Regions from separate parts of the Homo sapiens genome. Here region 2 is linked to region 1. A link means that fine-mapping ties the variant in region 1 to the expression of a gene that starts in the linked region. Tissue or cell type: nucleus accumbens. Region 1 holds a variant in brackets; the other region holds the start of a gene. All regions are shown on one strand. Distances are between the middles of the regions.

What was found.
Region 2: it holds the start of PCDH10-DT, and the variant in region 1 is fine-mapped to the expression of PCDH10-DT in nucleus accumbens (GTEx, PIP above 0.99).

What each region holds. Positions count from the first base shown.
Region 1 is chr4:133,092,746-133,097,147 of GRCh38, forward strand. PCDH10-DT (PCDH10 divergent transcript) reads right to left here. Exons shown (of 9, transcript NR_125885.1): 8 at 3,991-4,138; 9 at 1,115-3,205. Among named protein-coding and RNA genes, the nearest start is that of PCDH10-DT, 54 kb to the right of the region's middle. The variant G/A (reference allele first, on the strand shown) is at 2,633.
Region 2 is chr4:133,147,170-133,151,571 of GRCh38, forward strand. PCDH10-DT (PCDH10 divergent transcript) reads right to left here and starts at 1,947. Exons shown (of 9, transcript NR_125885.1): 1 at 1,860-1,947; 2 at 30-107. It overlaps PCDH10 (protocadherin 10), which reads left to right and starts at 2,125. Exons shown (of 5, transcript NM_032961.3): 1 at 2,125-4,402. The coding sequence starts at 2,972. RefSeq lists an enhancer at 1,869-1,928 and a silencer at 2,039-2,178.

The DNA of each region.
Region 1 (4,402 bases):
TCACCTGTGAGATGGGGCTACCATATAATGGTGTGCACTGTGCATGTCCTCCCACACTAGAAGCTTGAAATTAGCCATGTTGGGAGAATTTACATAAAAAAACAGGGCGAATACTATAGATCAGGGTTTCATTTACTGTTTTGTTGTCTAGACTTTAAAAAGTCATAGAGAAAATGTTAATAACGTGCATTAAGCCTAAAAATGTGTCTTGTCTGTAGCTATTACCTTGCTAGTAGAAAAAAAAATGAGAAAATATTATTCCATTATTCTAAACCTATTATCTAATTCGGCAAAGAAGTTGCTCACATCACTGATGAACAAGTGAAGTTCAAATACATGTCTGTGTTATTTCACTGTCTTATTAATGTAAATGAAAATATCAACCAACATTCATGCCAGGACTACACTTGTTAGTGAATACACTTGTAAGCTGGCTCCATATACAGGAGTTCAGCAAAAGTCAATGAAAGCATTCTATGAAAAGCAATCGGCTATACAGAATTTACAATAAATAATATTGAATATTTTATTATTATTTGTAACTTGTGTTACACAACCTTTATATCAATAAAATTTATGATAAACATATTAGTGTGTATATATACATATATACACATTTGAGTGTATATGTATCTATATAAACATATACATATATGCATTTTTGAGAGCCTGTTGAACGTTTACCACCATAACACTTAGAGACACCCAAGTGTTATCTAATAAATTAGATCTAATAATACTTTTTTTTTTATTGTCATGCAAAGGATCTTCCAAAGTCATCGCCAAGAGAAGGATCCCTTTTGACAGGATCTAGGATTGGTACCCATTATGAAGGTTCAGTAACTCTCCTAAGACCCATAATTAGTAAGTGGCCATAGGAGGCTCTAAAACCAGAAAGTCTTAACTCCAGAGGCTACTTTTTGACTCTGCAATCTTTCATGAGAGCACAGCATTCATCTCAGGAAAGCACAAATGTTTTAACATTAGAAAAGAAGAGCAAATAAGACTTTTTTAATTGTACATGCATTTATAATAATATAAACTCTTGAAAATAGAAAATAAATAACTTTATAGTGTTTAACTACTAAAACTTACAACAAGCCTCTCACTGATATTTAGTACTAATACTTAGAAGCATTTTATTTAACATTAGATGCAAAACAATACTTTTTAAAAAAATTGCACATGCATTTAAAATAATAAAAAATTCTTGAAAATAGACAAGAAATAACTTTATAGTGTTTAACTACTAAAACTTATAGCAAGCATCTCACTTATATTTAGTAGCATTTTATTTAATATTAGGTACAAAATAAGATTTACCACTCTCTCCCACAGTAATCAATATTTTGTTGGAATTAGCTAAGGCTTTATGAAAGCAAGTACAAATGAGTAGTTTAAAAATTTTATTGTAATAATAATTGTATTTGCTTTATGCACACGATATTATTGTCTACTAGAAAATCCAAAATACTAAGCCAATGGTAGAATCACTAAGGAGTTGGGCAAAGTTCTTAGTGAGGCAATATCAGATACTGGTAAATATTTCAGGCTGGATGCAGTGGCTCACGCCTGTAATCCCAGCACTTTGGGAGACCGAGGCAGGTGGAACATGAGGTCATGAGATCGAGACCATCCTGGCTAACATGGTGAAACCCCATTCTCTACTAAAAATACAAAAAATTAGCTGGGCGTGGTGGTGCCCACCTGTAGTCCCAGCTACTCGGGAGGCTGAGGCAGGAGAATTGCTTGAACCCAGGAGGTGGAGGTTGCAATGAGCCGCGATTGTGCCACTGCACTCCAGCCTGGGCAACAAAGCGAGATTCCGTCTCAAAAAAATTTTTTTTAAAAAGCAAAAATAAAATAAAATAAAATGGATTTCAAGCTCTGGAGACAAACTGCATGGATTCAAATAAAGCTTTACTCTTATATGACTTAGCACATGTTACTTAAGCTCTTTGTACCTCGATTTTCTTACTTGTGTAATGGAGATAATAACGGTCTCTTCCCATAAGAATATATAATAAGTTGATATATGGATGGAACTTTGACAACATCTGTCACATAGTAACCACCATGTAACTCGTCGATTGTTATTTTTATTACTAAATACCCACAATAATATTCAAAAGTGAAAATAAATAACACACCCATGGTTACAAGGATGTGTAAATTCATATCATAAAAATGTCTATTTTCTACAAGTTAGTCTACAAATTTCATGCAATTCAAATTCAAATCCCAAAAGTGATTTTCAAAGCTGACAACTGAACCACAAATCTCTATGGAAGAATAAAAAGAAATGCACAACCAAGACAAATTTAAAGCTACATCATTAGAAGGAGCACTTCATCCTGTCAATATCAGAACACTATATTAGTACCAATTGTATGATACTGGCACAGGAATAGACAAGCAAATAATGAACAAATCAGAGAGCCACGATTCATATCCTCATATATAAATATTCATATCTAGTAACAGTGCCTTTATAAATAATTAGGGAAATGCCACAATATCTATTCAATGGATTATGTTGGAACAATTGATTACATGATTACATGAGAAAAATAAGTAAATTTGTTCTCTATATGATATCATATAAAATAAATTTTATTTATGATAAAACTGA[G/A]TGACAACACTCAGAGATAGAACACTGTATCAGGTCAAACTCAATCCTACATTAGTGTCTGATAAAGGTCTATAAATGAAAATCCTTCTCCTGCTGCTAAAATATTCTCATTTTATGTTAAGGAGAGAAAGGTTGTGAGAGGTGATTAGGATATTACTTTATGATTCCATGCATATGTTTTTAAATTCATGACACTCTAGGAAAACTGTAAATCTACTTGTGAGCATTTGTAGTTACAGGTGAAATTCAGATAGATCCCCATTAGTGAACATCTGTTTTGTTTTTACAACTTTTTTCCCTTTCATCTGATAGATGAACCTCTATTTCATAAATAGGACTGACTCATTGTGTGGTTCTGATGTGTCTCCTACCACAAAATTAGGAGTGTGTCATGAAATTTCCCAAACTCATTGCTTTGGACATGGGCATATGACTCAGGGTGGATCAATTACTGTCCTTTCGAGACTTAGTCTGGAAGAGATATTGGAGAAGCAGAACTCCACTTGCCAGAATATGTGGATTTAACGCATTCTGAGACTGAGTCAGCAAGTTGCCATCTTCACCATAGAGAACCTGTGCAGAAAAGAAATCAACATAGAGAAAATCTAAGCCAAAGGAAAGGAGTAGGACAGATTTCTGATTATATAAAATGCACTTTAATAGATCATGACATAAGCCAGAAATATTCTTTTAATTTAGCTCTTTTCATGCTGAATTTAATTATTTCACTTAAAACTTACTGTTTTCACCATAAAAAATAATTTGGTGATTTAGACATTGAATTAGGACCACATAGTTATACAAGTATTATTGTAAAATTGATTACAAACAATAATGTGAAGCTAGAAGTAAATGATGTTTCATTCAGGATGAATTTATTAATACATGTGCTTACGGTTACTTCTTCAATAATCTTGTTTTTATTAGGCAAGATCAACTAGCTACTGCAACAAATGGACTCAAAATATGAAATAGCACATAATGGAAATGTATTTCTTGTTTACAAGAGTAAACAGATCAGAGAACAATTCTCCTCCAAATGGCCAACAGATACTCTGCCATCTTCACCCTATGCCATCCAAGACTTCCCTGACAGTCTTCTCCATTCCACTAGACAGGGAGCAAATAAAGCTTAAAGGACCATACATGGGAGTTTTTAATGAGTCAAGTCTAGAAATGATATATATCCACTGTGTTCATACTTCATTGGTTAGACCTCAGGAAATGTCCACACAAAAAAGCAAGAATAGCTAGGAAAAGTCTATTTCTAACATCAATAAGAGGAGAATCAGGATGTTGGTAAGCAGTAAGCAAGTTCTGCAAAAACAGTTATTGTAATAATAAATATTCATGTGTACCTGTTCCCTCAGGTAGTATACGCTCACCCCACGGTAGACAAAACTAAGTCCCATCTAGTTAGTATAATCAGCTCAACGTTCAGGATCTGTGGGTATTGAACACTTCTCTCCATCATGACTGGGAGTGGTTGTTGTGGTCCTGCAAAGCCTGATATAAAAACAATCAGTCTTATGTATGCTGTCAGTGGTAGAGCAGGGATAAGATAACTATAGTAGACAAGTAACATTTAAGAAAGGGAAAAAAGAACACAGAACACACACCTGATAATAATAACCATACAATCCTGCTGGGTAGGTCTTACAAAGCACCCCTAATGAGACACACATGATTTGCCCCTCTGTGGGGAAAGTTCCTTAATGAGACCCACATTCCTGGCTAAAAGTTACTTCCTTGTTTATTGTTCTCCATGAC
Region 2 (4,402 bases), 54 kb after region 1:
ACGTACAAATGAACGCATTAGAAAATTACCGTCATTTTTTAAAAGGCTCCAGGATTCTGACGAGTCAGCTTGAAGAGCTCAAAACATTTCATTTCAATTCTGCAGATCTGAAGAAAAAGAAAGGGGGGAGGGGTGGAAGTACAGATGCAATACCGTATTAATATTCAGATACACTATAATCTCCTTTTCATTGATCCACAGGTCCCTTTATACACTGCCGCTCCATTCTCAGCCGCAGACGTGATGCTAAAATCATTTTAACTGCAGCGGTTTTCGCTTGGCTTTGGCCAGTCTTCAATTTACTGCAGCTGGAAAAGGATTAGCCATTTTTGCTGGAATCCTTTCCTTCTAAGCGCTCAAAGGCAGGACCCATCTTCATGAAAGAGCCAAGTGCGGGGGCCGGGGGGACCCGGCGTTGCGGGGAGTTGGGGCGCGGAAATCAGGGCAGTAGACGTGCATTCGCGGGACTCTCAGAAGCACGTCTCAGGCTACTATCACGCCCATGGACACTAGCCCTCCTTAACTCCTTGCCAGGAGGAAATGGCAACGTATCTCCAGGTCGGAAAACGACTCTACTTTTCCCGCAGGTTGTGGTGGTGTATTCTTGGGTCATTCATTACCAGAAAGCAGCAAAGGACCTTCCTATCTCTTTGCATAAAAAGGAGATTGAATAGGGGCTTCTTTCGTGAATAAACAACCAATTCCTTGCTAGTGGCCCATTAATTAAAAATATATATTTATAGATCTTTCCTTAGAGAACTGGCATTCTATCCACTCTCCAGCATTAAAGAGTTCGCGCTGTGTTTTAACTTCACAAGAACTAGCTATGTGGATGTGCCGCGTTGCCCCTGCGCCTCCGGAAGGGGCACTCACAGCTGGTCAAGCGCGTCCTTCGGAACTCGGGGAGGCTCCGTTGGGGCTTACACAGAGCTAAGCCCTGGGCCAGGGAGGATGGATGCAAGTACCGTGCATGTGCAAACGTGTTCGCAGATACCCGCAGCGGTGCACACTCGGGCCCCTCGTGTGCACGGGCCCTGCCCACCACCCCGCCCGCGTTCGCCGCCGCCCCACTGTCCTCATCCCGCGGGCTGACCCCAGGATTGGCAGAAATCAGTGGTCTAATCTAGCATGGTGGGTAAAGGGATCGATCTCCAATTGCCAAAAAAAAAATAGAAAATAGCCGGTGTTCCCAGCCGCTGCGTGGCACTTGGCCGCACAAGGCGCAGGGATATCAGAGGCGCTTTGCAGCGCTTGGCGGTGCTGTGTGCCGGATGCCCCAGAGCCCGGCGTTAGGATGGCGGGCTTGTAGGAAGCGGCTCAAATCAACTCCTCAGTCACTGATGAACGCGCTCACGGCTCGAAGCTAGGTCCTCGAGTGAGTTAATCTACTTGGTAAGTATTTTGTGAATATGTATTTTGGGAGGAAAGAAGCACGTCGAACGCGTCTGCCCGTCTGTAAGCGCTGTCATCCCCACATCCTTTAGCGTGAATTCCTCCGCTTTTTAGGAGTCACCTCCACCCCCTACTCCGTATGCTTCGCGCCTTTCCTCACGGCCCCGTCAGACCCCCTCACCTTTAGATTGACACATGCCATATAATACTCACTTTTAAAATGCCCTGCCAGTCTCTGCTAGGGTCCCTTAATTAGGTAACCCTTGCCAATTAGTGGGCCCTGCGCTACTTTTTCCCTTCTCGATGATTTATTTCCATGATGCGTATTAGGGAAAATACCTTAAAGGAAAAAGAATGTTAGCATCATTGGAAATCCCGCTCCTAGGAGAGGATATCGCAGCTGTTGCTATTATGTTTTCGCATTTGCTGATGCAAACAGGGGAACCTCTCTATTCCCTCCCCATTACCTGCGGCTGGGGACTGGGAACTTTCCGCGGCATTGTCCCCAGCCAGCGCCTCGGGACCTGCGGGGCTGTTCTCGCTCTCACACTCACACTCACCCCGGCCGCTCGGGCGAGAGTTCTGTCCCGCCCCGCCCGGCTGCCGCGTGACGTGTCTGTTTGGCGGCCAGTTTGGCCAATCATCGGCAGCTCGGTGGGTGGTGCTCCTGGGCGATTGGTTGGCAGAATGAGGGCGCTGCGCAAAAACGGAGAAGCCGAGCGCTCGGAGCTCAGAAACTGCCAGCCCAGACCACAGGCTCAGAGGCTGAAGCAGGAGGAAGGAAGGACTGGAAGGAAAAAGAGACAGGTTAGAGGGAAAGAGGCTTGGGAAGAAAACAGCAGAAAAGAAACTGCTCATTACACTTACAGAGAGGCAAGTAACGGTGGAGATGAGGACAGAGGGAACCAAGACTCTGAAAGACAAAAAATACAAATAGAGCGAAAGAGGAAAAAAATGTCAAGAAGAACATCCATCCGGAGAAATGAAGAGAATGAAAGTTTTAAGCTGCAGAGCCGTTCTGTGCTTTTCCGGCACAAAATTATATCGCTGATTTTAAGCCCTTTTGCATTTGCCAGCCGTTGACATTAAGAGGCATGTTTAACGGTGCCAACAGCATCTCCTTTTCCTTCTCCTCTTCCTCTTCTTCTTCTTCCTCCTCCTCCTCCTCTTTTTCCTCCTCCTCGTTCTCCTCCCATCAGCAAGAAGACAAACCGAGGACAGTCTTGAAATATCGAAATTTCCTCTTTGGGATTTGCCAGCGCCAAGACTGTCGGAATAAAGGACGCTGACTATTGTATTATTGTTATTTTATTAATTAGTCAGTGGAAAGATTACAGATGAGGAAAGGGGACGCCTGTCACCCTTCCTGTGCTAAGATTTAAAAAAAAATGAGGCTGGATTGCGGGAAGCTCTAAAATGAAGCAAAAGGAGTAAGATTTTTAAAGACAGAAAGCCACAGGAGCCCCCACGTAGCGCACTTTTATTTGTATTTTTTCAGATTTTTTTTTGTTTCGTGGTGGTGGGGGAGGTGATTGGGTGGCTGACTGGCTGCGGGAAGCTACTTCCTTTCCTTTTGGAGATGATTGTGCTATTATTGTTTGCCTTGCTCTGGATGGTGGAAGGAGTCTTTTCCCAGCTTCACTACACGGTACAGGAGGAGCAGGAACATGGCACTTTCGTGGGGAATATCGCTGAAGATCTGGGTCTGGACATTACAAAACTTTCGGCTCGCGGGTTTCAGACGGTGCCCAACTCAAGGACCCCTTACTTAGACCTCAACCTGGAGACAGGGGTGCTGTACGTGAACGAGAAAATAGACCGCGAACAAATCTGCAAACAGAGCCCCTCCTGTGTCCTGCACCTGGAGGTCTTTCTGGAGAACCCCCTGGAGCTGTTCCAGGTGGAGATCGAGGTGCTGGACATTAATGACAACCCCCCCTCTTTCCCGGAGCCAGACCTGACGGTGGAAATCTCTGAGAGCGCCACGCCAGGCACTCGCTTCCCCTTGGAGAGCGCATTCGACCCAGACGTGGGCACCAACTCCTTGCGCGACTACGAGATCACCCCCAACAGCTACTTCTCCCTGGACGTGCAGACCCAGGGGGATGGCAACCGATTCGCTGAGCTGGTGCTGGAGAAGCCACTGGACCGAGAGCAGCAAGCGGTGCACCGCTACGTGCTGACCGCGGTGGACGGAGGAGGTGGGGGAGGAGTAGGAGAAGGAGGGGGAGGTGGCGGGGGAGCAGGCCTGCCCCCCCAGCAGCAGCGCACCGGCACGGCCCTACTCACCATCCGAGTGCTGGACTCCAATGACAATGTGCCCGCTTTCGACCAACCCGTCTACACTGTGTCCCTACCAGAGAACTCTCCCCCAGGCACTCTCGTGATCCAGCTCAACGCCACCGACCCGGACGAGGGCCAGAACGGTGAGGTCGTGTACTCCTTCAGCAGCCACATTTCGCCCCGGGCGCGGGAGCTTTTCGGACTCTCGCCGCGCACTGGCAGACTGGAGGTAAGCGGCGAGTTGGACTATGAAGAGAGCCCAGTGTACCAAGTGTACGTGCAAGCCAAGGACCTGGGCCCCAACGCCGTGCCTGCGCACTGCAAGGTGCTAGTGCGAGTACTGGATGCTAATGACAACGCGCCAGAGATCAGCTTCAGCACCGTGAAGGAAGCGGTGAGTGAGGGCGCGGCGCCCGGCACTGTGGTGGCCCTTTTCAGCGTGACTGACCGCGACTCAGAGGAGAATGGGCAGGTGCAGTGCGAGCTACTGGGAGACGTGCCTTTCCGCCTCAAGTCTTCCTTTAAGAATTACTACACCATCGTTACCGAAGCCCCCCTGGACCGAGAGGCGGGGGACTCCTACACCCTGACTGTAGTGGCTCGGGACCGGGGCGAGCCTGCGCTCTCCACCAGTAAGTCGATCCAGGTACAAGTGTCGGATGTGAACGACAACGCGCCGCGTTTCAGCCAGCCGGTCTACGACGTGTATGTGACTGAAAACAACGTG